Homo sapiens: one gene and its partners. The protein of the gene in region 1 interacts with the protein of each later gene in a pairwise test. Each region holds a gene or a part of one and is shown in the gene's direction. Other genes may lie near its edges. The genes, in order: HEMK1, CTAG1A, POU2AF1 and SHOX.

Region 1 (7,978 bases):
CTGCTTGAGTCCCCAAGTCAGTCCCTGCAGGCTTCCCTTGGAACCCTTGGTTTTTATCTGTTTCCCACTCCCTGTAAGAACCACAGGGCAGGACCTTGTCTTCCCAGCCTCTATTGGGTTCCAAAGGCCTGGTCCAGGGCAGGTACTCAGTAAATAATTGCCAAGTGAATAAATGAATGTTCACTGCCAACAGCCTCCCATGCACAGATCATCTTACCCAGACTCTGCAGCCCACGGTCCACATCAACCACCTTTAAGCCTTTTCTTCTATTGCAACCCCACATCCACTGCCCTAACTGTCCTGCTGGCTGCTCACAGAACCCTCTGTCTGCCTCCAAACTTTTGCCCATCAGGACTCTCCACTTGGAACTCCTTGACTACTATGTGGCCTTCATGACCCAGCTCAAGACACCATGTATTCCCAAGAACCTTTTCTGTTGTTTCCAGTTGGAAGCGTAGCCTCTCTGGTCTCTGGGCCCCAGTGGACAAATCTCTGCAGGAGAGGAGGACTGCACTCTCATTAATAGATTGTTGGCGGGCACAGAGGCTCATGTCTGTAATCCCAGCACTTTGGGAGGCCAACGGGGGCAGATCACTTGAGGCCAGGAGTTCAAGACCAGCCTGGCTAACATAGCGAAACCCCATCTCTACTAAAAATACAAAAATTAGCCGGGCGTGGCAGCTCACACCTGTAATCCCAGCTACTTGGGAGGCTGAGGCAGGAGACTCGATTAAGCCCCAGAGGTGGAGGTTGCAGTGAGCTGAGATCAAGCCATTGCACTCCAGCCTGCATGACAGAGCAAGACTCTGTCTCAAAAACAACAATAACAACAACCAGATTGTCTTCTGATTGATTAGGTTCTCTATAAATCTAAACACTGATTATCCTCCCCCAGCCTACCCCAGCTCTCACCAAGGCCACAGCCAGGCCTATCACCGTGATGATCCCAAAGGACAGAAGCATGGTACCCACGCCGGCCGTGCCACCAGCTGCATCAGGGATTCTGGTGTCATTAAAGGTGGTGGCCTCTGGGCTGAGGGTAGTGGTCTCGGAGGCTGGCCCATCTGTGGCAGGTTCCAGGTCAGACTCAGAGGTGGGTGGGCGGCTGCTGAACCAGCCCCTAGCAGATGCGGTCCTGGAGTTCATGCTGATGCGGAGAGGGCCCTGGCTGAGAGGCTGCCTGATGCCAGTCAACCTGCCCACTCACTCCTGACTCCGGAGTGCCCCAGCCTGTGGTTCCTGCCACCTGTGGTGGCCACCTGCACAGCCACCTCCTTGGATAAAGGGAGCCCCCTGCCTTCCTGGGTGCTAGAAAGGAAAGAATAAGAAACATGAGGCTAAGGACAGGGGCTCAGTAGTGAGATGAAGTCTCTCTAGGTTCTGAAAGCACTGGGGAGGTAAAGGTTTGAGGGCAAGAATGAGGGTAAGTTCAGGAGACATTAGGACACATACTTTACGTATCTACGGTGCCCCTGTTTTTGGGAACAAAAATGAAGCCCTGCATCCTCTGTCTGTGGGTGAGATGATCATAGTGATCAAACCTGGAAGATATGAAAGGCAGCGGGGATGTTTGAAAGAAAAAGTCTCCCTCCCCTGATCAAAAACTCCCCTCAACCTGCGTCCCCATATCCCCCACCTCCCCATATCCACCTCCTCATTCCCTGCCTCCCACATCCCTCATCCTGCTTGGGGGAAAAAATACCACAGCTTTTTCCTTTCCTGGAGGGAAACACTTGCCCAAGAGTCAGACAGGCCTGTCTTTGAAACCTAGCTCAGCTGCTTAACTAGTGATCCCTAGAAAGTCACTCCACCTCTCTGTGTCTCCGTTTTCCTGAGTCTAAGGTGGGGATATTGAGAACATCCCCACAGGGTCATGGGGTTACAGAAATGGCAGAACAAACAGGTGTCGAAGAAAGACTTAGCTCAGCACAACCCCCATCCACAGTAAGCATCCACTACATGTTAGATTTTCTCCCCATGGCCAACCCAGTCACAAAGGGGAGCCAAGGGAGCCCCTGGACCCAGTCCACTGTATGGTCCAGACTATGCTTGGAGTGTGGGTGGAGGCTGATGTGGAAAGACCAGAAGACAAGAAGGAGAGAGAGGCTCTGGTTCTCTGGCGGGGCTTCTCCGCAGGCTCTCGGGGACATTGGACTGCCCTCCCCACCCACCAACAATAGAGGGGCTGCTAGGGTCAAGGAGAAAGGCGAGGCAGGAATGGAGCTCCCAGTGTGGGTGCCTTCTCTTCCTTTACCCTCCTCCCCTGGAAGCAGAGGGTGAGAGATTTGCCCAGTGCAGAGGGCCCTGGTTAAGGTGGGGTGGGAAGAGGTGCCAGCCAAGCTGCAGATGGGACGGCCTAGGGAGAGGAGGGATACCTAGCTCGTGGGTGCATACATCCCCCTGTGCTGGTTCATGGGCATTAGTGGGGTTGCCTCCCTGTGCAGATGCATGGGCGTGTGTGAGATGTGTAAACACCTCTGATGGTCCCTGAGGAAGGGGCAAGGCTGGCAGAGGGTTATGGGGTAGAAAGGCTCATCCCTCTTTGCCTTCTCCCTCCAGCTAGGCTGGGCACATCTGGGCACATAGGAAGTCCCGGGTTCTTTTCTTGGCTTTGCAACTGATCCCGGGCGTGACCTTGGGCCAAACCCTTAACTCGTGCCCTGGGGCTCTGTTAACATCGCCTCCCAAAGGAGAGAAGAGGCCCTACTGACCACTTTCCAGGCCTGCCTCAGGGTCCAAAGGGGAAGGGAAGGAAACCGGGGTAAAAGGGGTCGGCACCGCGACCTTCGAGAACCCGCATGCTGTTCTCCACCAGGTCTCTCAGTCCTCCCTGCCCCAATCCCCATGCCCGCCTCCGCGACCCTGTGATGCCTCCCTTCTTGCACAGGAGCAGTGACCTCAGCACTTACTTAATCCTCTCCCGGCGCCGAGCTCAGTTGGAGAGGCTAGGGGTGGTAGTGACTGGCAGGAGGCCGGGGCGGGGGGAACCCCCAAGCCCGGCGTCTGGGGCTGCGGGTCCGACCCGAGATCCGCCCTCCCTGCAAGCCCCGAGCCGCTGGCCAGGCCCGCTACTGCGCACCAGCCGCATCCGCGAGCGCTGGCTCTGCCGGCCTGAGCTAGGGTGGGTAGGGCCGGGACCCACGGCGGAGGTGGGGCCGGGCCGAGCAGCCTCGGGGGATCCCCGAAGCTACAGCGCCTTGCCTCCCTGCACGCTCCGCGCCCCCGGCCTCCGATTGGCTGTCGGGCCTAGAGCCCGCCCAGAATTGGACCGTTCGCTTGTCGCTCGGGTCTGGCTCCACCCCCAGAGGGAGCCTAGAACCTGGTCGCAGTTTTTAGAGACTACCCTCACCCCGTGGCCTGCGCCGAAGTTGGGCGGAGGACAGTGGGTGGCCAGGCCCTTCCGGGCCAGAACTCGGGACCCCTGCCAGCTACCCGTGCCAGGACAGACTCAAGCCCCCAAAACGCGGATGGATGTACAGAGGAGACTTGGGGAGAGCACTGGACTGGGAGTCCTTGGGCCTGCACTGAACTCTGGCTGACTTTGTGACCTTGAAGAAACTGCTTTTCCCTTCCTGAACCTTGGCTTTCTACTCAGACGGGTCCTCTGGTGTGAGGGTTCTAGACGAAGATGGGGAATCTTCGTCTACAGAAGTTGAGAGTGGGGTGGATTTATTATTGGGCACCCCGACCCAGGCAAGTCTACATATACCCTCACAATAGCTTCCATCCACGGCATGATCAGCTCAGGGAAGGAGCCCTCAGATACTCCTGATCCGCCGGTTTTCAAAGTAGTTTATGGGAGTCACCGGGTAGCCTGGTACAAATGCAAACGCCCCTGTGTCTCCCGGTCTGGGAAGGAGGCAGGGAAACAGCATGTTTAATAGCAGTTTAAGGCCGGGCGTGGTGGCTCACTCCTGTAATCCCAGCACTTTGAGAGGCCGAGGCGATGGATCACCTGAAGTCAGGAGTTCGAGACCAGCCTGACCAACATGGTGAAACCCTGTCTCTATTAAAAATACAGAATTAGCCGGTCGTGTTGGCTCACGCCTGTAATCCCAGCTACTTGGGAGGCTGAGGCAGGAGAATGGCTTGAACCCGGAGGCCGAGGTTGCAGTGAGCAGAGATCGCGCCATTGTACTTCAGCCTGCGCAACAAGAGCAAAACTCCGTCTCAAAAAAAAAAAAAAAAAAAAAGAAAAAAAGAAAAAAAAAGTAGTTAACAGTGTTCTAGTTAACAGTACTTTCTGGTGGGGAGATGTTGACAAGACACACTTTGCGAGACGCTGCCGAGTATTTTATAGAAGGCGCAACTGAGGTCCAGAGGTCCCAACACCTGGAGGAGTTGCCAATAGAGTCAAGATTCGAATCGGTAAAAGAGCGGCCCCTGGGGTCTGGCCGCCAGTCGGCCGACCCCCTGGTGGGCTCGGGCCACTGACCTCGGTAGGGTCACGACACTGGGACTGGACCCCAAAGTTGGACCAGCCTTCAACACTGGAACCCGCCCATGCACAGCTCCACCCGGCCCCCAGGCTAAGATAGACCACGCCCCCGGACATCTGGTCCCCGCCGGAACACCCGGGCCCTCTGGTGACACGCCCCCTTTCCGGCAGGCTACTGGGCTCCGCCCACACACCTCCCGGCCTGGTTCCTAAACGCCAGCTCGGAGCAATCCCCTTGGGCTGGAGCCAAATCCCTGCTGTGATTTTAAGGAAGACCGGCAGGTCCGGGCCCCCAAGGGTCAACCCCACACACATCCCCGCACTTTCCTGTATGCAGGCCTGCGAGCGTAGAGGGAGTGGAATTCACAGCCTCCCCACCCATCCGCAGGGGTCTCCTGGGAGGAACCCACCAGCGATAGGAACACTGAAGCTGGGCTACGGCGTCCGCCCGAGCCTTTTCTTAAAGGCGCCGACCCCGGAAGCGGGGCGTCCGAGGGAGCGCGCGACGGGCCACGCACGTCCGGGCGTCCAGTTCGGGGCAGCTTCTCCGGCTGGTGGGTGGGTGGGGCAGCCTTTCAGGCAGGTATGCATGGGAGGTGGGGATCGGAACGGGGTGTTTCGACTGCAACCGCCTGGAGACCTGGCCGGTACCATTCTCCATAGTGCAGATGGGGAAACAGGGTTGGAGAGAGGGGGCCTCATCTGGGTCGTTAACAATGCGGTGCGTAGCTGTGAGGGAGTTTACACTTCTGACTTCGGGCCTTGGCTCCTGGGACGGCGCACTGGTGCAAGAGCCGCTTCTGGAGTCTGGTGGACTCGGGTTCGTGTCTTGCCTGGGACAGTCTTTTTTTTCTTTTTTTTGAGACGGAGTCTCTCTCTGGCACCCAGGCTGGAGTGCAGTGGCATGACCGCGGCTCGCTGCAACTTCCGCCTGCTTGAACTGGGTTCAAGCAGTTCTCCTGCCTCAGCCTCCCAAGTAGCTGGGACTACAGGTGCGCGTCAGTATGCCCGGCCAATTTTTTGTATTTTTAGTAGAGACAGGGTTTCACCATGCTGGCCAGGCTGGTCTCGAACTCCTGACCTCGTGATCCGCCCACCTCGGCCTCCCAGAGTGCTGGGATTACAGGCGTGAGCCACCGTGCCCAGCTTGCCTGGGACAGTTTCTACCTGAGTGACGCTGGGCAAGTCGCTTCCCTTCTCTGACCCTACTTGTATCTGAAGATGTGGCACTTAGCAGGTGCTTAATAAACGCTAGTTTGGACTTTTATCTGGAAGCAAAGGGGACCGCTGATTTTAAACCTTCAGTTAAACTTGCTTGTGACCTCTTTAAATATACAATTGTAAATTTTTTAGTTGGTGGTTTACGCTGATGTCCCGGATTATAGGTTAAATTAGGAGGAAATTTTCAGCATGTACATCCATGACAGTACACACACAATGTCAGATTCAAAGCTCCCAATTAAAGGCAATCATCTGCCTCTTGTAACATCAGTTAAGATCATGTAACATCTGGTCCCTGCTGTGTGTTGAGCTGCCTCCCAGGCCTTGGATATTCATAGACTAATGCATTGCTTGCCATGGGTTTGGTGTGATTTTCCCCCATCTTATGGATTAAGAAAGTGAAAATCAGAAATAATGACTTGCTCAAGATCACACACGCTAGGTTAGACACAGATCTGTCCTGTCCCCACATATGTGCCCTAACCTACCACCAACCCGTTTATTAGCAGAGACTGAGCTATGGGCTCAGCCCACTCCAGCTAAAAATGTGAAGAAAACGTAAGTGGCCAAGACAAGAATGATCAAATAGGTGGGTAAGGCTCTAAATGGAGTCAAGGGGGTGTCAGAGCAAGAGCACAACTATTCTCAGGCAATGTATTGGTAGAAGGGGGGGTGTCATACAAGGCTCACCTGCTTTCCTGGTTCCTCTCACTCCCAGGGTGGCAACCAACTATATCTGAGGACCAGAGCCATTTTGGGGCACCAGAGCTTGTGACCTCTCCATCTCCACCCAGCTGGGTCCAGGGGCCACTCTCAGCACTCACCTCAGCAGCTGACATCATAAAGCAGACTTGGGAACCTGGAAGCACTCTGGAGAACCTTTCCCTGAGACATGGAGCTTTGGGGCCGAATGCTGTGGGCCCTCCTGTCTGGCCCAGGGAGGAGGGGAAGTACCCGGGGCTGGGCCTTCAGCTCATGGCAACCCCAACCACCTCTGGCTGGGTTATCCAGTGCCATAGAACTGGTCAGCCACTGGACTGGGGTCTTTGAGAAGAGGGGTATCCCTGAGGCCCGGGAATCCAGTGAGTACATCGTGGCTCATGTCCTTGGAGCCAAAACAGTTAAGTTTAGTGTTGTCAAGAGGACAGGAAGAGGGAGGAGGGAGGACTTGGGGAAGGGATATCCAGGTTTTCTGTTCACTAAGAGTGCTTAGCTGAGACTGATGGGATTTTTCTGAAGGAACGTCTTAGCGCCTGGCACACACTGTAACAGTTTGTTGGATGAATGAATATATCTCTGCCTAAGTGTTCTGGGATAGACACCTGGAAGCCTGGTGTTAGCTGTGTAACCTTAGGCAGGATGCTGCCCCCTCTGGGCCCAGATGATGAGAGGGTTGGGCCTCCAGACCAGTGCTGGGCAGGCATTATCCACATAAGACACCTGGGTTGGGGGCCTTGGGCCCAGTGAGCCAGCCACTTATATTCTCTGTGGGGACAGTTTCAGAGCCTGAGGCCGGCACTTTGGACCCAGCCCTTGACCTCTCAGCAACTACAGTGTATCCGGGAGCTGAGTAGCCGTCGATTGCAGAGGTGAGCACCCATGGATCAGACCTGAAGGATGTGTTCAGGGAGCAGCAGTCCAGCCTCCCCTATCCCCACCAAGTTCAGGGAGGAGGAGAATGTCCAAGGACTAGGGAGGTGTTGGGGTGCAGGAGTGGCAAGAGTGGGGCCGGGGTACTGAATAGGAAGAAGGGAGGGAGGGAGGGTTTTGCCTCAGGAGTCCCAAGGCCCTGGAGACATGGTCTTGCCTGATACCTTTGGCCACAAGTGGTATCTCAACCCAGGCATGGTCCTGTTGGTCCTAGCTCTGTCCCTGATGACCACCCAGCTGCCCCCTCTGCAGGATGCCGGTGCAGTACATCCTTGGAGAGTGGGACTTCCAGGGGCTCAGCCTAAGGATGGTGCCCCCAGTGTTTATTCCTCGGCCAGAAACAGAGGTAGGTGTGCCACCAGGGCAAGGCAGGATCAGGATGATGGTGGAGTTCAGGGCACCAGTCTTACCCCAGGCTTCCTCCAGGGGGCACTGGGGCCCCATGACTTCAGGGACAGTGCCTTTCTAGACATGTATTTCCTCTCTGACTGTGTTGGCAGAGCCCAGAGGACAGAGGATTCCTGTTGGTCCCCTTGACTGTTATGTTCCAAGCTATCAACCCAGCCTCTAGGTCTGGCAATGGCCCAGAGTGCCTCAAATAGTGCTGCCCAAGTACTTAGCCTGTTCTGCCATTTCTCTGGGAGCCATCCCATGGCTCACCCAACCCA
Region 2 (7,075 bases), on another chromosome or scaffold:
AGATTCAGAGGATGTATGGAAACGCCTGAATGTCCAGGCAGAAGTCTGCTGCAGGGGCGGAGCCCTCCTGGGGAACCTCTACTAGCGTAGTGCAGAAGGGAAATCTGGGGTTGGAGTCCCCACTGGGGCACTGCCTAGTGGAGCTGTGAGAAGGGGGCCACCATCCTCAAGACCCCCGAATCATAGATCCACTGACAACTCGCATTATACTCCTGGAAAAGCTGCAGACATTCAATACCAGCCCAGGAAAGCAGCCGAGGGGGCTGTACCCTGCAGAGCCACAGGAGCGGAGCTGCCCAAGGCCTCAGGAGCCCACCCCTTGCCTCAGTGTGGCCTGGATGTAAGACATGGAGCCAAAGGAGATTATTTTGGAGCTTTAAGAATTAATGACGATTTTCTGCTCCGCCCGCCCACAGATGTAGTTTCCTCCGCACGTGCGCACCTTCCCTCCTCCCCGCCTGCAGGGTCCATGGCCTCCATGGCGTTTTAGGGGCAGCAGTGCCTGTGGCAGCCTTGGCCTTTGCAGCGGTGGCAGCAGCACCAGGCTCTGCAGTGGCATCCACCGGCGGCTTAAGCCGTAGCACTTCTCACAGCATTCAGCAGCAGCATTGCTGTAACCGACAAAGACACCTTCGAATTAAGCACATTCGTTGATTCCAGCAAAGCACTGCACCATGACCGAGATGAGCTTCCTGAGCAGCGAGGTGTTGGTGGGGGCTTGATGTCCCCCCTTGACCAGTCAGGTTTGGGGACTGAAGAAAGCCTAGGTCTCTTAGATGACTACCTGGAGGTGGCCAAGCACTTCAAACCTCATGGGTTCTCCAGCGACAAGGCTAAGGCAGACTCCTCCGAGTGGCTGGCTGTGGATGGGTTGGTCAGTGCCTCCAACGATGGCAAGGAGGATGCTTTCTTTGGGACAGATTGGATGTTGGAGAAAACTGATCTGAAGGAGTTCGACTTTGATGCCCTGTTGGGTATAGATGACCTGGAAACCATGCCAGACGAGCTTCTGGCCACGTTGGATGACTCGTGTGATCTCTTTGCCCCCCTAGTCCAGGAGACTATTAAGGAGCCCCCCCAGTCCAGGAGACTATTAAGGAGCCCCCCCCAGATGGTGAACCCGATTTGCCATCTCCCAGAAAGTTTAACCCGACCAGGTTGCCCCCTTCACCTTCTTGCAACCTCTTCCCCTTTCCCCAGGGGTCCAGTCCTCCACTCCAGATTATTCCTTTAGTCTAGAGCTGGGCAGTGAAGTGGATATCTTTGAAGGAGCTAGGAAGCCAGACTCCACTGCTTACATTTCCAAGATCCCTCACTGCACAAAGGAGGAAGACGCCCCCTCAGATAATGATAGTGGCATCTGTATGAGCCCAGAGTCCTATCTGGGCTCTCCCTCTACCTCCAGGGGCTCTCCGAGTAGGAGCCCGCCATCTCCAGGTGTCCTCTGTGGCTCTGCCTGCCCCAAACCTTATGACCCTCCTGGAGAGAAGATGGTAGCAGCACAAGTAAAGGGTGAGAAACTGGATAAGAAGCTGAAAAAAAAATGGAGCAAAACCAAACAGCAGGAACTAGGTATCGCCAGAAGAAGAGGGTGGAGCAGGAGGTCCTCACTGGTGAGTGCAAAGCGGTGGAAAAGAAGAACGAGGCTCTGCAAGAGAGGGCGGATTCCCTGGCCGAGGAGATCCAGTACATGAAAGATTCGATAGAAGAGGTCTGCAAGGCAAGGGGGAAGAAAAGGGTCCTCTAGTTGAGGGTAGTCAGGAGCGTCAATGTGCTTGTACATAGGAGTCTCGCGCTGTAGCTGTGTGTTCGAATAAATTATTTTGTAGTGGAAAAAAAAAAAAAAAGAATTAATGACTGTCCTGTTGGGTTTTGGACTTGCATGGGGCCTGTAGCCCCTTTGTTTTGGCCGATGTCCCCCTTTTGGAAAGGGAGTATTTACCCAATGCCTGTACCTCAATTTTATCTTGGAAGTAGCTAACTTGTTTTAGATTTTACAGGCTCATAGGCAGAAGGGACTTGCCTTGTCTCAGTTGAGACTTTGGACTGTGGATTTTTGAGTTAATGCTGAAATGGGTTAAGACTTGGGGGACTGTTGAGAGGAGATTATTGTATTTTGCAATGTGAGAAGTACATGAGATTTGGGAGGGGGCAGGGGTGGAATGATATGATTTGGATTTGTGTCCCCACCCAAATCTCATGTTGAATTGTAATCCCTAGTGTTGGAGGAGGGGACTGGTGGGAGGCGATTGGATCATGGGGGTCGATTTCCCCCTTGCTATTCTCGTGATGTTGAGCTCTCACAAGATCTGGTTGTTTAAAAGTGTATAGCACCTCCCCCTTCACTTTCTCTTTCTCCTTCTCTGGCCATATAAGATGTGCCTCCTTCCTCTTTGCCTTCCGCTATGATTGTAACTTTCCTGAGGCCTCCCCAGCCATGCTTCCTGTAGAGCCTGCAGAACTGTGAGTCAATTAAACCTCTTTTCTTTATAAATTACTCAGTCTTAGGTAGTCCTTTATAGCAATGCGAGAACGGATTAGTACCGTCAATATTGATGAGAATGTTGAGCTATGTGTATGTACGCTGACACATTATGGTGGAAGCGAAAATTGGCTCAAACCACTTGGGAAAACATGGCATTATCTAGTAAATTTCGAGATATGTATTGGCTGTGATACAGCAATTCCAAAAAAAAACTTGGACATGTGCTTCAAGAGACCTGTACAAGCATGTTCATAGCCAAGGGCTGGAAACTATCCAAATGCCTGCCCATCATCAGCAGAATGGATAAATTAGAGGACTATAAAACTCTGCCGTAATGTAATAGGTAGTTTCCAAGAAATCCAATCGCATACAATGTGAAAATGTGTTACTGTGGGGTTAATGAAATGAATGAGGCAAGCCCGCTGGACCATCCAAATCTGTCCTGCTCCCGGCTGGAGTTTGATGCCATCTAGTGGCAGACGTTGCTCTGGCTGAAATATTGATGGAGATTTCCGGTCCAGTGGCTGGCTGAGACTTCCAGGACAGTGGCAGTATCTCCAGGAATCTCTCAGTCAGTTAGGACTTCCTTTCTTGACTTGATCTGAGGATAATAGGCCGGGAAAATAATGGGGACCCGGAGACCCTCCCTCTGTCTTCCTGCTTCCTAAGACAGGGTCACATGCACTTTACTCTCCCTTCCCTGACCTGTTGAAGGTAAGAACTTTAGCCTGCCTCTGTCTGAGAATGGGGAGACTGAGCAGAGGACGACAGGAAGGATGGCAATCACTAACCGGGTTATGTCTGATTTTCAGCTATTCCAGGTGTTAACAAGTTGTGTTCTCTGGTTTTTAAAATTCATCATTTAATGAAATATATGTAATGAAATACAGCAGTGAAAATAATAAACTGGAGGTACACGCAAGAGCTTGGGTGAATTTTTCTTTTCTGTAAGTAAAAACATTTTTAACTGATGTATGATAACTCTGCATATTTATGGGATACATGTGATATTCTGATACATGCACACGCACACACGATGTAATGATCAAGTCGGGGTATTTAGGATCTCCACCACCTCAAGCATTTATCATTTCTTTTTTTGGGGAACATTTCCTATCTTTTAGCTATTTTGAAATATACAATAAATAATTACCTATAGTCCCTCTACGGTGCTATCAAACACTAGAACTTAATCCTTCTATGCAACTATATGTTTGTCCCCATTAACCTCCCCACCCTCCCCACCTTTCCCAGCGTCTGGTAACCATCATTCTGCTCTACCTCCAAAAGATCAACGTTTTTAGTTTCCACATGAGTGCCAATATGCTTTTCCCAGGTGCAGAGGCTGCTGATTCCTGGATTTGGAAGGTGGGGGAGAGTGGTTTGGATTTCAGTACCTCCCCCTTCCTCAGGGCTAGGCCCTGTCTGGTCACCTCCTGTTGCTACAGGTGTGCCTGGCACAGACATTCAGCTCCCGGGGCCGTGCCGCCCTCACCCCTGCATGCCTCTAGAGGTACCTGTCCCGTGGATTTGACCCCCTTCCAGACACACAAATAGATCACCACTGAGCAGACACAGGGTCACCTCCCAGCTCCCTACCAGGCAAGAGCGACCAGGGCAGGGACTGATACTGCCGAACCCAGGAGCCAGGCCCGACCCAGCCTCAGGTCCAGCAGGTCCCGCCTGTCCACCTGGGCCAGGCCTAGAGCCCGGGAGCCCCTGGCTGGTGGGAGGCCACCCGCAACCCACCCCACACGCAGCTCCAGCTCCCCCACCAGGCGGGGCGACTAGGACAGGGACAGAACCCGTTGAACCCAGGAGTGAGATCCGGCCCCGGGTCCCGCTGGGCCCTCCCGTCCACCTTGGCTGGACCTGGCGCCTGGGAGACCTTGGCTGGCGCGAGGCCACGCCCACCAGACATGCAGTTCCAGCTACCCCACCAGCTGGGCGACCAGGACAGGGACGGAGGCTGCTGAGCCCAGTTAGAGGCCTGCCCCCCGGGGTCTGTCCTGGGCGCTCCCCCAAGGACGGACAGGGCAGGCAGGGTCCGGGACGATGGCCGCACAGTCCCGGCCCCGTGTTCCCAGGCCCGTCTTGCTCCTCGATGTGAGGGAGACCCGGGGGATGGGACAGGCTGGGCCCCGCAGTGCCTGACTCCCTGCAGGGCTCCCGGGACAGGGGTCCGGCGGACAGCCGGCTGCTCAGGGGTGAGGGGTCCAAGCTGGCATTGCGGCCACCTTCCGGCCCGGGCTCTCTTGGGGAGGGGCGGGGTTGGTGAGAACCGGTCACGTGCTCCGGGGCTCACTCGGGGTCTCCCAGGGCCGGAAGTAGGGCCCCTGTGCGCAGGCGCCCTGAGGATCCCGGGCTGCCCATCTCACGCCAGGGGGCGGAACTTCCTGCAGCCTCTCTGCCTCCGCATCCTCGTGGGCCCTGACCTTCTCTCTGAGAGCCGGGCAGAGGCTCCGGAGCCATGCAGGCCGAAGGCCGGGGCACAGGGGGTTCGACGGGCGATGCTGATGGCCCAGGAGGCCCTGGCATTCCTGATGGCCCAGGGGGCAATGCTGGCGGCCCAGGAGAGGCGGGTGCCACGGGCGGCAGAGGTCCCCGGGGCGCAGGGGCAGCAAGGGCCTCGGGGCCGGGAGGAGGCGCCCCGCGGGGTCCGCATGGCGGCGCGGCTTCAGGGCTGAATGGATGCTGCAGATGCGGGGCCAGGGGGCCGGAGAGCCGCCTGCTTGAGTTGTATTCTGTTCTGTTCTGTTCTGTTCTGTTCTGACAGTTCTGGTGGCGAGGTGGGGGCCGGGAGATGGGGAGGGCAGGGCCAGGTGGGGGAGGAGGCGGGGGAGATGCGAGTAAGTGGTTGGGTGGGGGTGGGGGTGGGGGTTGGGAGGTGGGGATATGAGAGGCCAGCTGCGAGGAGGGGAGGAGGTAAGGGCTGGGAGGTAGAGGGGGTGGGGGTGGGGGAGAGGGGCTGGGTGATTGGGTGAGGGGCACCGGGTCATGCGGGGAGGGGAGCAGGGGCCAGGAGATAGGGGGACCCAGGTGTAGGAGGGGATCAGGAGGTGGGGGGAAGGGGGCAAGATGGGAGCGGGTGGCGGGAGGTGGTTGGGATGGAGGGTCGAGTGATGAGGAGGGGGCCGGGTGATGCCACAGGGGGCAGGGTGGGGAGGGGTCTTGTAAGGGCATGGAGGAGTCAGCTTGGGGTGCAGCAAAGGAAAGTGGGGAACCAAGACAGCTGGGTGGGGTGTGCTACTGGGCCAGTGCCTGGGGAGACAGCCTGGGGGGGATGGGCTGGGCAATCCGGGGTAGGGGGGAGGGGTGGGGGAGTGGGGGAGGGGGAAGCTGGCCTGGGGTAAGCAGCAGGCCGGAGCCACAGGCCAAGTCCTAGGAGAGGATGCCTTAACTGGGCCCCCACCAGCTACCTCGCCATGCCTTTCGCGACACCCATGGAAGCAGAGCTGGCCCGCAGGAGCCTGGCCCAGGATGCCCCACCGCTTCCCGTGCCAGGGGTGCTTCTGAAGGAGTTCACTGTGTCCGGCAACATACTGACTATGTCAGTTCAGGACCAGGACAGGGATGGGGCCTGGGTGGGTGGCGGTCACAGCGTGGCAGGGTGGGGGCTGGGATCCGCCTACACCCCACGGTCAGGCTGCTAGAAACCTGGGAACACCCCAGCACAGGGTCTCAGAACAGAGACCTGGTACACCAGGCCCGCCGCCACCCGAGGGAGCCCAGGGAGATGGGTGCAGAGGTGTCGCCTTTAACGTGATGTTCTCTGCCCCTCACATTTAGCCGACTGACTGCTGCAGACCACCGCCAACTGCAGCTCTCCATCAGCTCCTGTCTCCAGCAGCTTTCCCTGTTGATGTGGATCACGCAGTGCTTTCTGCCCGTGTTTTTGGCTCAGCCTCCCTCAGGGCAGAGGCGCTAAGCCCAGCCTGGCGCCCCTTCCTAGGTCATGCCTCCTCCCCTAGGGAATGGTCCCAGCACGAGTGGCCAGTTCATTGTGGGGGCCTGATTGTTTGTCGCTGGAGGAGGACGGCTTACATGTTTGTTTCTGTAGAAAATAAAACTGAGCTACGATTCCGTGTCTGAGTCTCTTTTCGGCGAGCGAAGGCACCTTCGGACTTGCATGCCCTTGTCCTCGGGTTGCAGGGGAGGCTCTGGGATTCACAGATTGAAGTAGCACAAGGTAACGGGAGGCAATTTGGGAAATGGGGGAAAATGAAAAGCCACTGGGTCCCGCCATTCAGCATTAACTACTGTGGACATTTTAGAATATTTTCCTCAATATACTTGCATTTATATGTTAAATATATGACAGTAGCATATATAATGTTTTTCCAGGTCAGCATTAAATTTTTTCCCAAATTGTTTTCATTGAACATATGAGCTTTTTTACTTGGGAAAAATTCTTTGAAAACGTACTTGAATAGATGCATAGAACCAGCATTATCATATCACTGTTAAGCATGTGATATGGGTTGGGCATGGTGGCCCACACCTGTATTTCCAGCACTGTGGGAGGCTTGAAGCGGGAGGATGGCTTGAGACCTGCAGTTGGAGGCCACCCTGGGCAATGTAGCGAGATTC
Region 3 (7,770 bases), on another chromosome or scaffold:
AACCAACTAGAAAATTATATAAAAAACAAGATGCCATTCACAATATCAACAGAAACTATAACATAATTGAGAATTAGCTTATTTAAGAATATACTGTACTTCTGCGGAGAAAATTTAAAAACTGTAATAATAAAAAACATGGAATATGATCTGAAGAGATGGAGAGCTGTCCCATGCTCAGCTGGACCAAATTAATTTTATAATGATATTACTCTTGCTTGAAGTAATCTACAAATTCAATGAAAACCAATAAAAATTTCAGTGTTTTTTTTGGGGGGGGTGCTGGGGAGTCTCTCTCTGTCACCCAGGCTGGAGTGCAGTGGTGCGATCTCGGCTCACTGCAACCTCCATCTCCTGAGTTCAAGCTATTCTCCCACCTCAGCCTTCTATGTAGCTGGGATTACAGGTGCCCACCATCATGCCCAGCTGATTTTTGTATTTTTAGTGGAGACAGGGTTTCGCCATGTTGGCCAGGCTGGTCTCAAACTCCTGACCTCAGGTGATCCATCTGCCTCGGCCTCCCAAAGTGCTAGAATTACAGGCATGAGCCACCATGCTGGCTGGAATTTTTTGAGGAACTTGATAGACTTATCTGAAAAATTTAAGCTGTACTATAATAAATAACAATAAAAACTAAGGTACAAGAACAACGAGACCAGTAAAATAAAATAGGTCCATGTACCTAAAGTATGTATTTCTATTCAAAAAAAGCACACTATGAATAAAGTTAGCAGATGACAAGAGTGAAGAAATTTGTGTTGAGTAAAACTGAAAATATCTAGAATTGTACATCTAGAACACAGATGTGCAAAGAATTTCTGCTGATCAACAAGAAAAAGGGCAATCCTGGTACAGAAATTGGCAAAGGAATGAACAGACATTTTAAACTGGCAAGAACAAATACTACACTTGATCTTAGCCAAAAGGCCAAGAGGTGATTGAAGAGGTATTTTGAAGAGAAACTCCATAGGGTTAACATGCATATGAAGACATGCTTCCATTTATTAGTATTATAATGTAAAATAAACCACTACACTATCACTACACTATTACACTAAAACACACACACACACACACACACACACACTACACTGTTGCTATCACTACATGTACCACACTGGCAACATTTAGACCTTGGATAATGTCAGGTTTGGTGGTAAAGTGGAAATATGAGAAGCTGGTGGAAAAATGAACTGCTGGTGGAAGTCTTGGACAGATTAGTATTCAGTCAGATTAAATATACACCTATTCTTTGGCCCAGTAATTCCACCTCTGGGCATATAACCTCAATGAAATTTTCACATGCCTCTGAAAAAAGATGCATATAAGAATGTTCATCAATGCTTTGTTTGTGGAAGAGGAAGTTGGAGACAATCTGCTTAAGTGAAATGCAGCGCTCACACACCATAGAATACTTTGCAGGTGTTAAAAGTGGTGCACAGAATGTCTACATCAATGTGGATAGATCTTACAACACTGTGCTGAATTAAAAAATAAGAAACAGCGTGAAATGTGTAATATAACATCACCTACATAAATTAAAAATCTATACATGCCAAACAATACAGATCTTATAAGAACAGGCACAAATGTCTACAAATAAAAGCTTCAGCATCAACCACTGAAAAGAGTTGCCCTGATTGGAATGGTGGGTGGGTGATGGGGGTATGAGGGGACAGGAAAAAGAATAGACATGGAAAATGAGGGGGAAAGTAGATGAATGAATAAATAAATTACTGAGCAAAATAAGATAGGGGCTTTTCATAAATCAAAAATGATGAGAATGAAGATGATTAAAGGCTAAATGAAAAGAAAAGATTAAGACTTGGCAGAGGTAATGACATGTAATAAGCACTCTGTAAATATTTATTAAATGATGGAAGAAATGAAGTCGATGGTGAATCTTTTTGCAAAGCTAAAATTTATTTCACAATATGAATCAGTGCGCTTTAATAAATTATTTTAGAAGTTTTGATGTTTGTATATCAGATTCTTTAAAAATGTGAGCACACCTGTATTTGGAGTCATCTGGACCATGTTCACAGATTTTTTCTTCTTTTCTTCCACTTCTTGAGACATTGCATAAACATAGTCGCCTCTTTTGAACTATGCCATGCAGTTTGACTTTTGATTCTAAGTCACAGAAAATGTTTTCCTGGAAAATATTTGCTGTTTCGATCAAGTCTTGATTCCAAAGCATCTGCCTGTATGTGGTCACTGATATGCAGGGTATTTGCTGGAAGAAATGAGCTGGAATCTGCCTCATGAGCTGTGAGGCCATAAGAGGTGATGGGTTTATCGCTGGCCATGATGGTGGGCTTGCCCACTGACATTTTGTTTTTCTGCCACTGTACAAGATCTGATTTGTCAGAGTAGCTCTGGGTCTCACCTTTTCCTTCCCTCTTTCCAGAGGACAGAAATTTATTCCGGGGGATATAGCTTCTGTTGATCTGCTTCAGGTTTTAATAATAATGATCCTATATTACTACTAACAAACATGGCTGACACTTGGCATTTACTGCTTTCAACTTAATAAATATCTTTTATTTTAATGATTTAGAGCTCTGGCTCTAGTCAGATGAACTTGGGTCTGGCACCAGCCTATAACCTGATAGCTTGGTGACATTGGACAGATGAAATTCCCTAAGCATTTGTTTGTTTCTCTGAACAATACAGGTAGACGTTTCCTTGCAGCGTTGTTGTGGTGACTAGATTAGGTAATGTATTTAAGGCTTAACATGGAGCCTCTTGCACAGTAAGTGGTTATATTATTACTTTGTGGAAATCATCATGCTAGGCCTGTGGGGAGAAACTGAGATGAATAAGAAAAAGTTCTGAATTTCACGGACTTGGAGAGAATAAGACATGACCAAAAGAGACAAAAGACAGACCCGTGGGAGAGAGGACCAGCGAGGCCACATATCCTCCTACGAACCTGTGAGACACTCACAGAACTGGTTCTTCATTTTATAGATGAGGAAACTGAGGCTAGAAGAGTTATGTGACTTGTTGAAGGGGACACAGTGAGTGAGTGTCAGAGCCTTCATGGGAACCCACGTCTCCTGTGACTGAGGCAGGCCTGAGGGATGTGCCTCTGTTTCTCATGGAAACTCCTTGGCGCAGCCCAAGGCCTTGAGATGCTGCCCCCTGCCAGGCCAGGGTGTGGGCTGCCAGCCACCACAGCATGGGGGCCTCCACTGTCCTGAACTTCAGAGGCTTTGCGGGGAGGGCTTATAGGCAGCCAGGAGACAGCCTTCTCTGGCTTTTAAGTGAATCATTTATAAAATGTTGACAGCATTTCTCCTCAAGACCTGCCCTCAAATCAGCAACCGATTAGAGACAGTAATTCATAACTTTATCAGATGAATTTTTATTGGGGGTCACTATGCTCCAGGTCTTGTGTGGGGCACTGGAGAGGCAAAGATGAAACCTCCTTGAGAAACTGTCAGAGTCATGTGACAATTCACCATCACATAATGAACAAAGTGCTCTAAGATCTGAGAAGACGAACAAGTATTCTCTGGGCTGGGGGTTTGTCCTTCCGGCAAGAGAGGACGGCAAGGTCAAAGGCAGGGAATTGCATGGGTGTTTGGTGGTGCTTAGAGGGCACTGGGACCAGTGGTAGGAGGGCAGTTGGTGGTGAGGCTGGAAAGGAAGGCAACGGCTCGATTGTGGGAGGCCTTCTAGGCCTCCAGCTCTGTGGCTGAAGGGAGAAGGTGAATGCTTTGTAGGCTAGGGGATAGCATGATCAGGTCTAGGTGGTGCAAGATGGCTCTGAGGCAGTATGGATGGCAGAGCAGCAAGGCCCCACACCTGCTCTAGGGGGTGTGCCAAGGGGTCTTGACCCCAAACTGACTGAGTCCCTGGAGCCTGAGCATGTGGACCTCAGATATGCAGTGGCAGAAGGCTTCCAAACTGTGAAGGAACCGGTAGCCAACACCATCTACACTTCCAGATGGTGAGCCCATGACTTACTTAAAGAAGCTTCCTGTTATCAGTGGGTGGGCACTCGCAAAGAGGCTCTGTTCATCTTGTGCCTACAAGCCCAGATCCAGTCAAAGAGCACGGGCATGTTCTCCTTCCTTCCTTGAGGGTTGGCCTCTTTTTCCGTGGGCATAGCCGACATCAGAGCCAGCGCCCCCATATTTCAGCATGATTAAGCCTTGCCATTTTGGGGGTGGCTGGGGGCGAGGGGAGGGGCTACTGTGTTTCAAAATGGAATAAACAGAAAAGCAATATTGAAAGAATGAGGAGGTTGTTTACTGAGGCTTGAAGAGATGACAGGTGTTTCCTCCCAGTTGAGAACCAGTGACCCCTGGGAATCGCATTTCCCGCTGAGCAGGCGCCCATGGCGGGCTGAGTCCTGCCCATGCCCTGGTGGCCTGGAAGCCTGCATGGGCGCCGTGCAAAGATCAACGTTTTCCAGAGGAGCTTTTGGGCTCATCACTGGCCTGGGGAGGGCTTGACACGGGGTTCCCACAGCTTGCCCCACACCACCTTCACACCCACACACAGCAGGTCCCCGCGGGGCCGGTGCAGGCTGTGGCTGCCCGCGCTGCGCTGTTGCTCTGTCCCAGCTGGCTAGCTCCGAGTGTGGAGCGCTCTGGGCCGGGGCCGCTGGGGCGCGCACAGTGGGGTGACAGGCGGCCTGGCTGCAGAAACGTTGCACCGGTGCCTGAGGTGGGAGGATGTGATGACGCGGCCCACGCAGCGGGAACCCAGGCCTTTAAAAAGCCCAGGAAACAGCCTCAGCTCAAGCGGTGGCTCCACTGGAGGAAAACACACCCCGGTCTCACATTAAAGAAGCCAAACTGTCGGCTTCAAAGAGAAAAGGCAACATCCTGTCACAGGCCATGCTCTGGCAAAAACGTAAGTGGTTTGGCTGTGGCTGTCAGACCCAAGCGAGTGCCAGCGGGGCAGGGCGATCACAGCTTGGTCTGGAATTGGGGAGCTGGTGGTGGAGGTGATGGGGCCACGGGGGGAGGGGGTCTGGGTTCCAAGCCCCGGAGCAGGGAGGGGGGAGGTGGGCGGGATGGAGCCTGGTGGAGAAACCAGCCTGTCAGAGGTGATGCTGATTTTCCAGGCTGGAGGGGAACGAACTAGTGTTCCAAGGTGGGACGGCTCAGGGTACCTCCGCTTCTGTGCATGAATCACTGTGGTGAAGAAAGGGCAGTTTATGATTCACACAACAAAAGCCAGATGTGGGATGGGTTTGGGGTTGGGAGGGAAAAGCCATGCAGTTCTTTACAGGAGGGGCTTTATTTCCATAAGCAGTGGCTCTTCAGCCTTCTGTTGAATTCCCTGGGCCTGTTTCTAGCTGAGTGACTTAGCTTTCTGCCAGGTGTGACTTGTCCCTGTGGATACCCTGGGAGGAGTGGAGATCTGGCTCGGTGAAGCGTGTCCTCACTTGCTCCACTGTCTTGCCTTTCGTCATTCTTTTTCCCCTTCTGTGACAAGGCTTGTCCATCCCACTGCAAAGGATGCAGTGGGTTTATCTTTGGCCTTGATTTTTATCCCCGGAGTTGGATGAAACAATTGTGAACTTTATTTTCCTTTATGTGGACCAAACAGCGACTTACCTTACTAATAACTGAAATAATACAGATTATTTACAACATTCTTTTCACGAGGTAAACAGCGTCAACTCATCAGCTTCTGAGAGTTGAACCTTATTGGGGCTAGTTCTATACTTCCTCAAGCAAGAAGAATGACCAAAAATTGCTCTGTCTTTCTCTTAAAGATTCTTGGTTCCTTAAAATTCGTTTTAATTAATTTTAGTATGCTGTGCCTCAAGCAAGCTTAATATAAGAGAATCTAGATTTACAGAAGAAGATATATTAGGGAATGTTTTTATTTTATGGAAAGATACTTGATTGGATCCACTAAAGTTCGGAAAATATAACTTCATTGATTAAAATGTGACACTGTCATCACCAATTTATTGTTTGCTTTATGTCTTATGTAAATTTCTCTGGAATTAAGCTGATTAACCAGTAACACAGAAGAGTGATTTCAAAATTTCTCAGGTTGTGAAGACCCACCATTGTTTGATATCAAAAGGTCAATTTTTTAAAAAAATAAAGAGAAATGAGCTTTAATTTGGGTTTGAGAGTTATGGACTCCTTCCAAGATAACTAGGAATATTCAAGAATTGTTGGCACGCCACTCTTCCCAACAGGCGATGGAGCAGCGGCAGCCTATCCTTTCTGGGACAATGGCAGCTGACCCTGTTGTGAGTGCTGTGTGGATGAGAGCAGGTGGGCATTCATCTTTTTACTGGGGGCCCCTAAGCATCTGTGTGCCCTTTCACTCAGGGCTGAATCATTTGATTTTTGTGTGAGCCCCTGGAAGGAGTTTTGCCTCAGCTCCTACCTTCTATGAGCAAGCCACTTTCCTTTTTCTCAATCCTTAGGTTTTTTGTATGTTAAGTGGGGGTAAAAATCATATCCACACTGAGGATCTATCCTTAGTAAGTGAGGTGCCACCGAAGTCATGTTCATTGCTCTGTCTGCATCAGCCTCTGAGATATGAGTTGCTTCCCTGCATTCACCATCTGCCATATTCTCCCCTCTTGGTTCTGTAGTACATTTTTTCATTTCTAATTCCTTCTAAGAGATGAACAGACTTTTTTTGTTTGTTTGTTTGTTTTTTGAGACAGAGTGTTGCTCTGTTGCCCAGGCTGGAGTGCAGTGGCGCGATCTCGGCTCACTGCAACCTCTGCCTCCTGGGTTCAAGTGATTCTCTCGCCTCACCCTCCCTAGTAGCTGGGACTACAGGTGCCCGCCACCACACCCAGCTGTTTTTTTTTTTTTTGTATTTTTAGTAGAGATGGTGTTTTACTATGTTGTTCAGCCTGGTCTCGAACTCCTGGACTCAAGTGATCCACCCGCTTTGACCTCCCAAACAGGTGTGAGTCACTGCACCTGTCCCCCAAATTTTTTAAAGGGGATGCTGGAGGGCATGCTTCCTGCTCACACCCTGGAGACCAGTCAGATAGATCAAAACTCCATTGTAAGGGAGACCACATTGTAAGCTCATCAATGGAATAACTGGGGTGAATGTTTCCACATGTTCAGATGAACACAAATCAAAATTATCTTGAATTGTCCTTTAAGCCTTAAAGGAAAAGTAGGAGAGACCCTGGGCTCTGGACCCACCCCCTTAGCCTGAACCCAAGTATGTGGTATAGAGGGCACCTGGGTGACTAAACCGTGTGGGAAAATCAGTAAAAACAGGGCAGCATGTCAGCCCACTTAGAGTCACCCGATGGAAGGGCAGGGTTTGAAATCAGACACCAAGAGTGCTGAAAGGGCACTTTCTTTTTTCAGAAAACACCCTCGAGGCATGAGCTGAAATGACTGTACTATGGGGTTCTGGAAAGGGTTAAGAAAACATTCACTTTGTGAATGTTACCTCCTCCCTACCTAGCCCATGACCCTAGTTTGTGGACTAAATGTGAACCCTGGCTTTTGGTTAAGATTAGAGCATAAAGTGACAAAGCCCAGAACTGCTGGCACAGAGAAGTAGAAATCTTCAAGCCCCAACCAATGGATTTGAGATTTGCTTGATGGGCCAATTGGATGAAGAAGTCACTCCATCTGTAGATTCTCTCCCTGGGTTCTGGACTTGGACCTGCTGGTCAGGTGCACATGTGAAGAATTACCATCCCTCCCCAGCTAGTAACAGTGTAGTGGAAATAGCAGGAACCTTGGAGGGAGACAGGTCTGAAAGTTGCCTGTGCAACTTAGTTCTTTCTTTGTGAGAAGGAAA
Region 4 (7,273 bases), on another chromosome or scaffold:
TACCTCTGTCTCTCTCTCTCCTCTTTTTCTCTGTCTCTGTCTGTATCTCTGTCTGTCTCTGTCTCTCTTTCTCTCCTCTCTCTGTATCTCTGTCTCTGTCTCTCTTTCTCTCCTCTCTCTCTTTTTCTCTGTCTCTGTATCTCTGTCTATCTCTGTCTCTCTTTCTCTCTCTCATCTCTCTCTGTCTCTTTTTCTCTGTCTCTCTCTGTGTCTCTACCTCTGTCTCTCTTTCTCTCCTCTCTTTTTCTCTGTCTCTGTATCTCTATCTCTGTCTCTCTTTCTCTCTCTCCTCTCTCTCTTTTTCTGTCTCTGTCTCTCTGTCTGTCTCTGTCTCTCTTTGTCTCTCTCCTCTCTGTCTCTTTTTCTCTGTCTCTCTCTGTGTCTCTACCTGTGTCTCTCTTTCCTCTCTCTTTTTCTCTCTCTGTCTGTATCTCTGTCTACCTCTGTCTCTCTCTCTCTCCTCTCTCTCTGTCTCTTTTTCTCTGTCTTTCTGTCTCTCTATCTCTGTGACTCTTTCCCTCTCTCCTCTCTCTCTCTTTTTCTCTCTCTCCCTGTCTCAGGGAAGCATCAGTAAAACCTCCAACAAGCACCCCCTTGTACACAGCCCAGGCCAAGAGAGGTGCAGACCCTGCTTTCTGCCTGCAGCCGCCTGCTGTAAAATGTCAATGCAAAACATTTCATACAGTCCACCCACTCTGCAGACTGGAGCTGCGGCCTCTCGGACAGCGTCTTGAATTGGCAACGAAAAACGTGTGGGGTAGAAAAAGCTCTCGTCTGGATTTCTAACATGTTATCAAGCACTCAAACGCTGGGTGTTTCCTGCCTGTCTTTAAAGGGAAGGGCAGGGAGAGAACGTAAAAGCTCTGGTCAGAGAAGGGAAAGGTCTTTAGGTGAGAGGGGTGAGGCCGCCTCCGTGCTCATCCCACAGGAAGAGTTGGAGTTTTACAGAAAGATGAGATCTCTTTCGCGTAGCCAGAAACTCTTAGGAAAAGCGGGGTGTTGGAAAGGCAGAAAGTGTGCCATGAATCGGACGTGCGTGATTTCAAAGCCACTTGTCTGCAGTGAGAATTACAATTGGGGCTTCAGTTGAAAAAGGGCCTTTGCTTTTTCTCCGAGGCCGAGGGGCCTTGAATAGCCACACAGCTCCTGACTGGTGTCCCCATGCTCATTCCTGGAGGCTCGGACACCCTGGTAGAGCGGAGTTTCCTACTAGACAAAGGGGTCCAGATTGCGGCCCAAGAAGGAACCTCAGGTCGGGGAAAGCCTGGGCCTCACGGGACCCCCCAGGAAAGCCTGGTCCTTGGGGTTGGAGAAGACAGCTGAGCTGGGAGGACGGAGGGTTTTCGGTAGGGAGACAGTGAGCAGCTGTGAGAGGTTTACGGCGCAGTCCCTGGGGACCCAGTTTCCCAGCAGAGGCAGAGATGGGGAGGCCTTTAGAAGCAGAAAAGTTACCCGGCCTCTGAGGACCCAGAAAGTTGCTCTAAGCCAGAGACCCTTCTCCGAATCTCCCTCTCTGTCTGTCTCTGCCTCTCTCCCTCTTTCTCTTCCCCCTCCCTGTCTCCCTCTCTGTGTCTCTGCCTCTCTTTGTCTCTCTCTGTATCTCTATCTGTGTCTCTCTTTTTCTCTCTCCATCTCTCTGTCTCTCCGTTTCTCTCTTTCTCTCTCCCTCTCTCTCCCTGTCCGTGTCGCTCTTTCTCTCTCTCCATCTCCCAGTCTCTCCCTTTCTCTCTCTCCATCTCTCCCTGTCTCTCTCTTTCTCTGTCTCCATCTCTTTCTCTGTCTCTCCTTGTCTCTCTCTTTCTCTCTCTCCATCTCTCTCTGTCTCTCCCTGTCTGTTTCTCTCTCTCCATCTGTCTGTCTCTCCCTTTCTCTCTCTCTGTCTCTCCCTCTCTCTCCCTGTCTGTGTCTCTCTTTCTCTCTCTCCATCTCTCTCTGTCTCTCCCTGTGTTTCTCTCTCTCCATCTCTCTCTGTCTCTCCCTGTCTGTTTCTCTCTCTCCATCTGTCTGTCTCTCTCTTTCTCTCTCTATCTCTCCCTCTCTCTCCCTGTCTGTGTCTCTCTTTCTCTCTCTCCATCTCTCTCTGTCTCTCCCTGTGTTTCTCTCTCTCCATCTCTCTCTGTCTCTCCCTGTCTGTTTCTCTCTCTCCATCTGTCTGTGTCTCTCTTTCTCTCTCTCCATCTCTCTCTGTCTCTCCCTGTCTGTTTCTCTCTCTCTATCTGTCTGTCTCTCTCTTTTTCTCTCTCTATCTCTCCCTCTCTCTCCCTGTCTGTGTCTCTCTTTCTCTCTCTCCATCTCTCTCTGTCTCTCCCTGTGTTTCTCTCTCTCCATCTCTCTCTGTCTCTCCCTGTGTGTTTCTCTATCTCCATCTCTCTGTCTCTCCCTTTCTCTCTCTCTGTCTCTCCCTCTCTCTCCCTGTCTGTGTCTCTCTTTCTCTCTCTCCATCTCTCTCTGTCTCTCCCTGTGTGTTTCTCTCTCTCCATCTCTCTGTCTCTCCCTTTCTCTCTCTCTGTCTCTCCCTCTCTCTCCCTGTCTGTGTCTCTCTTTCTCTCTCTCCATCTCTCTCTGTCTCTCCCTGTGTTTCTCTCTCTCCATCTCTCTCTGTCTCTCCCTGTCTGTTTCTCTCTCTCCATCTGTCTGTGTCTCTCTTTCTCTCTCTCTATCTCTCCCTCTCTCTCCCTGTCTGTGTCTCTCTTTCTCTCTCTCCATCTCTCTCTGTCTCTCCCTGTGTTTCTCTCTCTCCATCTCTCTCCGTCTCTCCCTGTCTGTCTCTTTCTCTGTCTCCATCTCTCTCTGTCTCTCCTTGACTCTCTTTCTCTCTGTCTCCATGTCTCTGTCTCTCCCTGTCTGTGTCTCTCTTTCTCTCTCTCCATCTCTCTCCGTCTTTCCCCCTCTGTCTCTTTCTCTGTCTCCATCCCTCTGTCTCTCCCTTTCTCTCTGTCTTTCCTTGTCTCTCTCTTTCTCTCTCTCTCTCCATCTCTCTCTCTCCCTGTCTCTCTCTCTCCATCTCCCCGTCTCTCCGTTTCTCTCTCTGCCTCTCCCTGTCTGTCTCTCTCTTTCTGTGTCTTACACACACCCCAACCCACCGTCACTCATGTCCCCCCACTGCTGTGCCATCTCACACAAGTTCACAGCTCAGCTGTCATCCTGGGTCCCCAGGCCCCGCCGGGGAGGAAGATGCGCCGTGGGGTTACGGGAGGAAGGGGACTCCGGGCCTCCTGGTGCCCCACTTTATTTGCAGAAGGTCCTTGGCAGGAACCGTGACGCGTTTGGTTTCCAGGACTTGGAAAACGAATTTCAGGTCGCGATGGCGAGCACCGGCTTCCCCTGAAGCACATTCAATAGCGAGAGGCGGGAGGGAGCGAGCAGGAGCATCCCACCATGAAAACCAAAAACACAAGTATTTTTTTCACCCGGTAAATACCCCAGACGCCAGGGTGACAGCGCGGCGCTAAGGGAGGAGGCCTCGCGCCGGGGTCCGCCGGGATCTGGCGCGGGCGGAAAGAATATAGATCTTTACGAACCGGATCTCCCGGGGACCTGGGCTTCTTTCTGCGGGCGCTGGAGACCCGGGAGGCGGCCCCGGGGATCCTCGGCCTCCGCCGCCGCCGCCTCCCAAGCGCCCGCGTCCCGGTTTGGGGACACCCGGCCCCTTCTTCTCACTTTCGGGGATTCTCCAGCCGCGTTCCATCTCACCAACTCTCCATCCAAGGGCGCGCCGCCACCAACTTGGAGCTCATCTTCTCCCAAGATCGTGCGTCCCCGGGGCGCCCGGATCCCCCCCTCGCCATCTCAACCCCGGCGCGACCCGGGCGCTTCCTGGAAAGATCCAGGCGCCGGGCTCTGCGCTCCTCCCGGGAGCGAGGGCGGCCGGACGACTGGGACCCTCCTCTCTCCAGCCGTGAACTCCTTGTCTCTCTGTCTCTCTCTGCAGGAAAACTGGAGTTTGCTTTTCCTCCGGCCACGGAGAGAACGCGGGTAACCTGTGTGGGGGGCTCGGGCGCCTGCGCCCCCCTCCTGCGCGCGCGCTCTCCCTTCCAAAAATGGGATCTTTCCCCCTTCGCACCAAGGTGTACGGACGCCAAACAGTGATGAAATGAGAAGAAAGCCAATTGCCGGCCTGGGGGGTGGGGGAGACACAGCGTCTCTGCGTGCGTCCGCCGCGGAGCCCGGAGACCAGTAATTGCACCAGACAGGCAGCGCATGGGGGGCTGGGCGAGGTCGCCGCGTATAAATAGTGAGATTTCCAATGGAAAGGCGTAAATAACAGCGCTGGTGATCCACCCGCGCGCACGGGCCGTCCTCTCCGCGCGGGGAGACGCGCGCATCCACCAGCCCCGGCTGCTCGCCAGCCCCGGCCCCAGCCATGGAAGAGCTCACGGCTTTTGTATCCAAGTCTTTTGACCAGAAAAGCAAGGACGGTAACGGCGGAGGCGGAGGCGGCGGAGGTAAGAAGGATTCCATTACGTACCGGGAAGTTTTGGAGAGCGGACTGGCGCGCTCCCGGGAGCTGGGGACGTCGGATTCCAGCCTCCAGGACATCACGGAGGGCGGCGGCCACTGCCCGGTGCATTTGTTCAAGGACCACGTAGACAATGACAAGGAGAAACTGAAAGAATTCGGCACCGCGAGAGTGGCAGAAGGTAAGTTCCTTTGCGCTCCGGCTCCAGGGGGGCCCTCCTGGGGTTCGGCGCCTCCTCGCCACGGAGTCGGCCCCGCGCGCCCCTCGCTGTGCACATTTGCAGCTCCCGTCTCGCCAGGGTAAGGCCCGGGCCGTCAGGCTTTGCCTAAGAAAGGAAGGAAGGCAGGAGTGGACCCGACCGGAGACGCGGGTGGTGGGTAGCGGGGTGCGGGGGGACCCAGGGAGGGTCGCAGCGGGGGCCGCGCGCGTGGGCACCGACACGGGAAGGTCCCGGGCTGGGGTGGATCCGGGTGGCTGTGCCTGAAGCCGTAGGGCCTGAGATGTCTTTTTCATTTTCTTTTTCTTTCCTTTCCTTTTTTTGTTTGTTTGTTTGTTTGAGACAGAGTCTCGCTCTGTCCCCCAGGCTGGAGTGCAGTGGTGCGATCTCGGCTCACTGCAACCTCTGCCTCCTGGGTTCAAGCGATTCTCCTGCCTCAGCCTCCCCAGTAGCTGGGATTACAGGCATGCACCACCACGCCTGGCTAATTTTTGTGCTTTTAGTAAAGACGGGGATTCACCATGTTGGCCAGGCTGGTCTCGAACTCCTGACCTCAGGTGATCCACCCGCCTCGGCCTCCCAAAGTGCTGGGATGACAGGCGTGAGGCACCGCGCCCGGCCTGGGTCCTGACGGCTTAGGATGTGTGTTTCTGTCTCTGCCTGTCTGCCTTGTATTTACGGTCACCCAGACGCACAGAGGAGCCGTCTCCACGCGCCTTCCCAGCGCTCAGCGCCTGCCGGGCCCCCGGAGATCACGGGAAGACTCGAGGCTGCGTGGTAGGAGACGGGAAGGCCCCGGGTCAGCTCGGTTCTGTTTCCTTTAAGGAACCCTTCATTATTATTTCATTGTTTTCCTTTGAACGTCGAGGCTTGATCTTGGCGAAAGCTGTTGGGTCCATAAAAACCACTCCCGTGAGCGGAGGTGGCCGGGATCTGGATGGGGCGCGAGGGGCCCCGGGGAAGCTGGCGGCTTCGCGGGCGCGTCCTAAGTCAAGGTTGTCAGAGCGCAGCCGGTTGTGCGCGGCCCGGGGGAGCTCCCCTCTGGCCCTTCCTCCTGAGACCTCAGTGGTGGGTCGTCCCGTGGTGGAAATCGGGGAGTAAGAGGCTCAGAGAGAGGGGCTGGCCCCGGGGATCTCTGTGCACACACGACAACTGGGCGGCATACATCTTAAGAATAAAATGGGCTGGCTGTGTCGGGGCACAGCTGGAGACGGCTATGGACGCCTGTTATGTTTTCATTACAAAGACGCAGAGAATCTAGCCTCGGCTTTTGCTGATTCGCAGAGTTGAGGTGCGAGGGTGAATGCCCCAAAGGTAATTCTTCCTAAGACTCTGGGGCTACCTGCTCTCCGGGGCCCTGCATTTGGGGTGTGGAGTGGCCCCGGGAAATAGCCCTTGTATTCGTAGGAGGCACCAGGCAGCTTCCCAAGGCCCTGACTTTGTCGAAGCAGAAAGCTGTGGCTACGGTTTACAAAGCAGTCCCCGGTTTCTGACCGTCTAAGAGGCAGGAGCCCAGCCTGCCTTTGACAGTGAGAGGAGTTCCTCCCTACACACTGCTGCGGGCACCCGGCACTGTAATTCATACACAGAGAGTTGGCCTTCCTGGACGCAAGGCTGGGAGCCGCTTGAGGGCCTGCGTGTAATTTAAGAGGGTTCGCAGCGCCCGGCGGCCGCTTCTGTGGGGTTGCTTTTTGGTTGTCCTTCGCAGACACCGTTTTGCTCCTCTGAACTCTCTCTTCTCCCCCTGGCCGTGGACCCGGGAGAGCAAAGTGTCCTCCAGACCTTTCGAAAGTGAGAGGAAAATAAAGACCAGGCCAAAGACCCAGGGCCACAGGAGAGGAGACAGAGAGTCCCCGTTACATTTTCCCCTTGGCTGGGTGCAGAAAGACCCCCGGGCCAGGACTGCCACCCAGGCTACTATTTATTCATCAGATCCAAGTTAAATCGAGGTTGGAGGGCAGGGGAGAGTCTGAGGTTACCGTGGAAGCCTGGAGTTTTTGGGAACAGCGTGTCCCCGCCGAGCCTGGGAGCCCGTGGGTTCTGCAAAGCCTGCGGGTGTTTGAGGACTTTGAAGACCAGTTTGTCAGTTGGGCTCAATTCCTGGGGTTCAGACTTAGAGAAATGAAGGAGGGAGAGCTGGGGTCGTCTCCAGGAAACGATTCACTTGGGGGGAAGGAATGGAGTGTTCTTGCAGGCACGTGTCTGATAGGAGGTGAAACAGAATGTGAAATCCACGTTGGAGTAAGCGTCCAGCGCTGAATGTAGCTCGGGGTGGGGTGGGAGGGCCCTGGTGTGGATCGTGGAAGGAAGAAAGACAGAACAGGGTGCTAGTATTTACCCCGTTCCCTGTAGACACCCTGGATTTGTCAGCTTTGCAAGCTTCTTGGTTGCAGCGGCCTTGCCTGTGCCCCTTTGAGACTGTTTCCAGACTAAACTTCCAAATGTCAGCCCCTTACCCTTGACAGCAAGGGACATCTCATTAGGGCATCGCGTGCTTCTCATCTGTGCTCAGCAGGCCCGAGATAGGAACAGAGGGGCGTTGGAGATGCCACTTCCACCAGCCCTGGGTTGAAGGGGAGCGAGGGAGACACCTTTTA

Evidence for each region.
Region 2: the proteins of HEMK1 (region 1) and CTAG1A interact in binary tests that used the Homo sapiens proteins (3 or more experiments, as listed by UniProt).
Region 3: the proteins of HEMK1 (region 1) and POU2AF1 interact in binary tests that used the Homo sapiens proteins (3 or more experiments, as listed by UniProt).
Region 4: the proteins of HEMK1 (region 1) and SHOX interact in binary tests that used the Homo sapiens proteins (3 or more experiments, as listed by UniProt).

Annotation. Positions count from the first base shown.
Region 1 is NC_000003.12:50,564,553-50,572,530, forward strand, and holds the start of HEMK1 (MTRF1L release factor glutamine methyltransferase), read left to right. Parts: upstream 1-4,969; 5' UTR 4,970-5,022; exon of another isoform or gene 5,023-6,249; intron 6,250-6,350; exon of another isoform or gene 6,351-6,378; 5' UTR 6,379-6,552; coding exon 6,553-6,780; intron 6,781-7,157; coding exon 7,158-7,249; intron 7,250-7,524; exon of another isoform or gene 7,525-7,562; coding exon 7,563-7,656; intron 7,657-7,978. UniProt on the Homo sapiens protein: N5-glutamine methyltransferase responsible for the methylation of the glutamine residue in the universally conserved GGQ motif of the mitochondrial translation release factors MTRF1, MTRF1L, MRPL58/ICT1 and MTRFR.
Region 2 is NC_000023.11:154,580,252-154,587,326, forward strand, and holds CTAG1A (cancer/testis antigen 1), read left to right. Parts: upstream 1-4,881; 5' UTR 4,882-4,955; coding exon 4,956-5,224; intron 5,225-5,900; coding exon 5,901-6,035; intron 6,036-6,274; coding exon 6,275-6,413; 3' UTR 6,414-6,565; downstream 6,566-7,075.
Region 3 is NC_000011.10:111,376,261-111,384,030, reverse strand, and holds the start of POU2AF1 (POU domain class 2-associating factor 1), read left to right. Parts: upstream 1-4,755; 5' UTR 4,756-4,853; coding exon 4,854-4,869; intron 4,870-6,178; exon of another isoform or gene 6,179-6,181; coding exon of another isoform or gene 6,182-6,257; intron 6,258-7,770. UniProt on the Homo sapiens protein: Transcriptional coactivator that specifically associates with either POU2F1/OCT1 or POU2F2/OCT2. It boosts the POU2F1/OCT1 mediated promoter activity and to a lesser extent, that of POU2F2/OCT2. It recognizes the POU domains of POU2F1/OCT1 and POU2F2/OCT2.
Region 4 is NC_000023.11:626,535-633,807, forward strand, and holds the start of SHOX (short stature homeobox protein), read left to right. Parts: upstream 1-4,256; 5' UTR 4,257-4,363; coding exon 4,364-4,640; intron 4,641-7,273. UniProt on the Homo sapiens protein: Controls fundamental aspects of growth and development.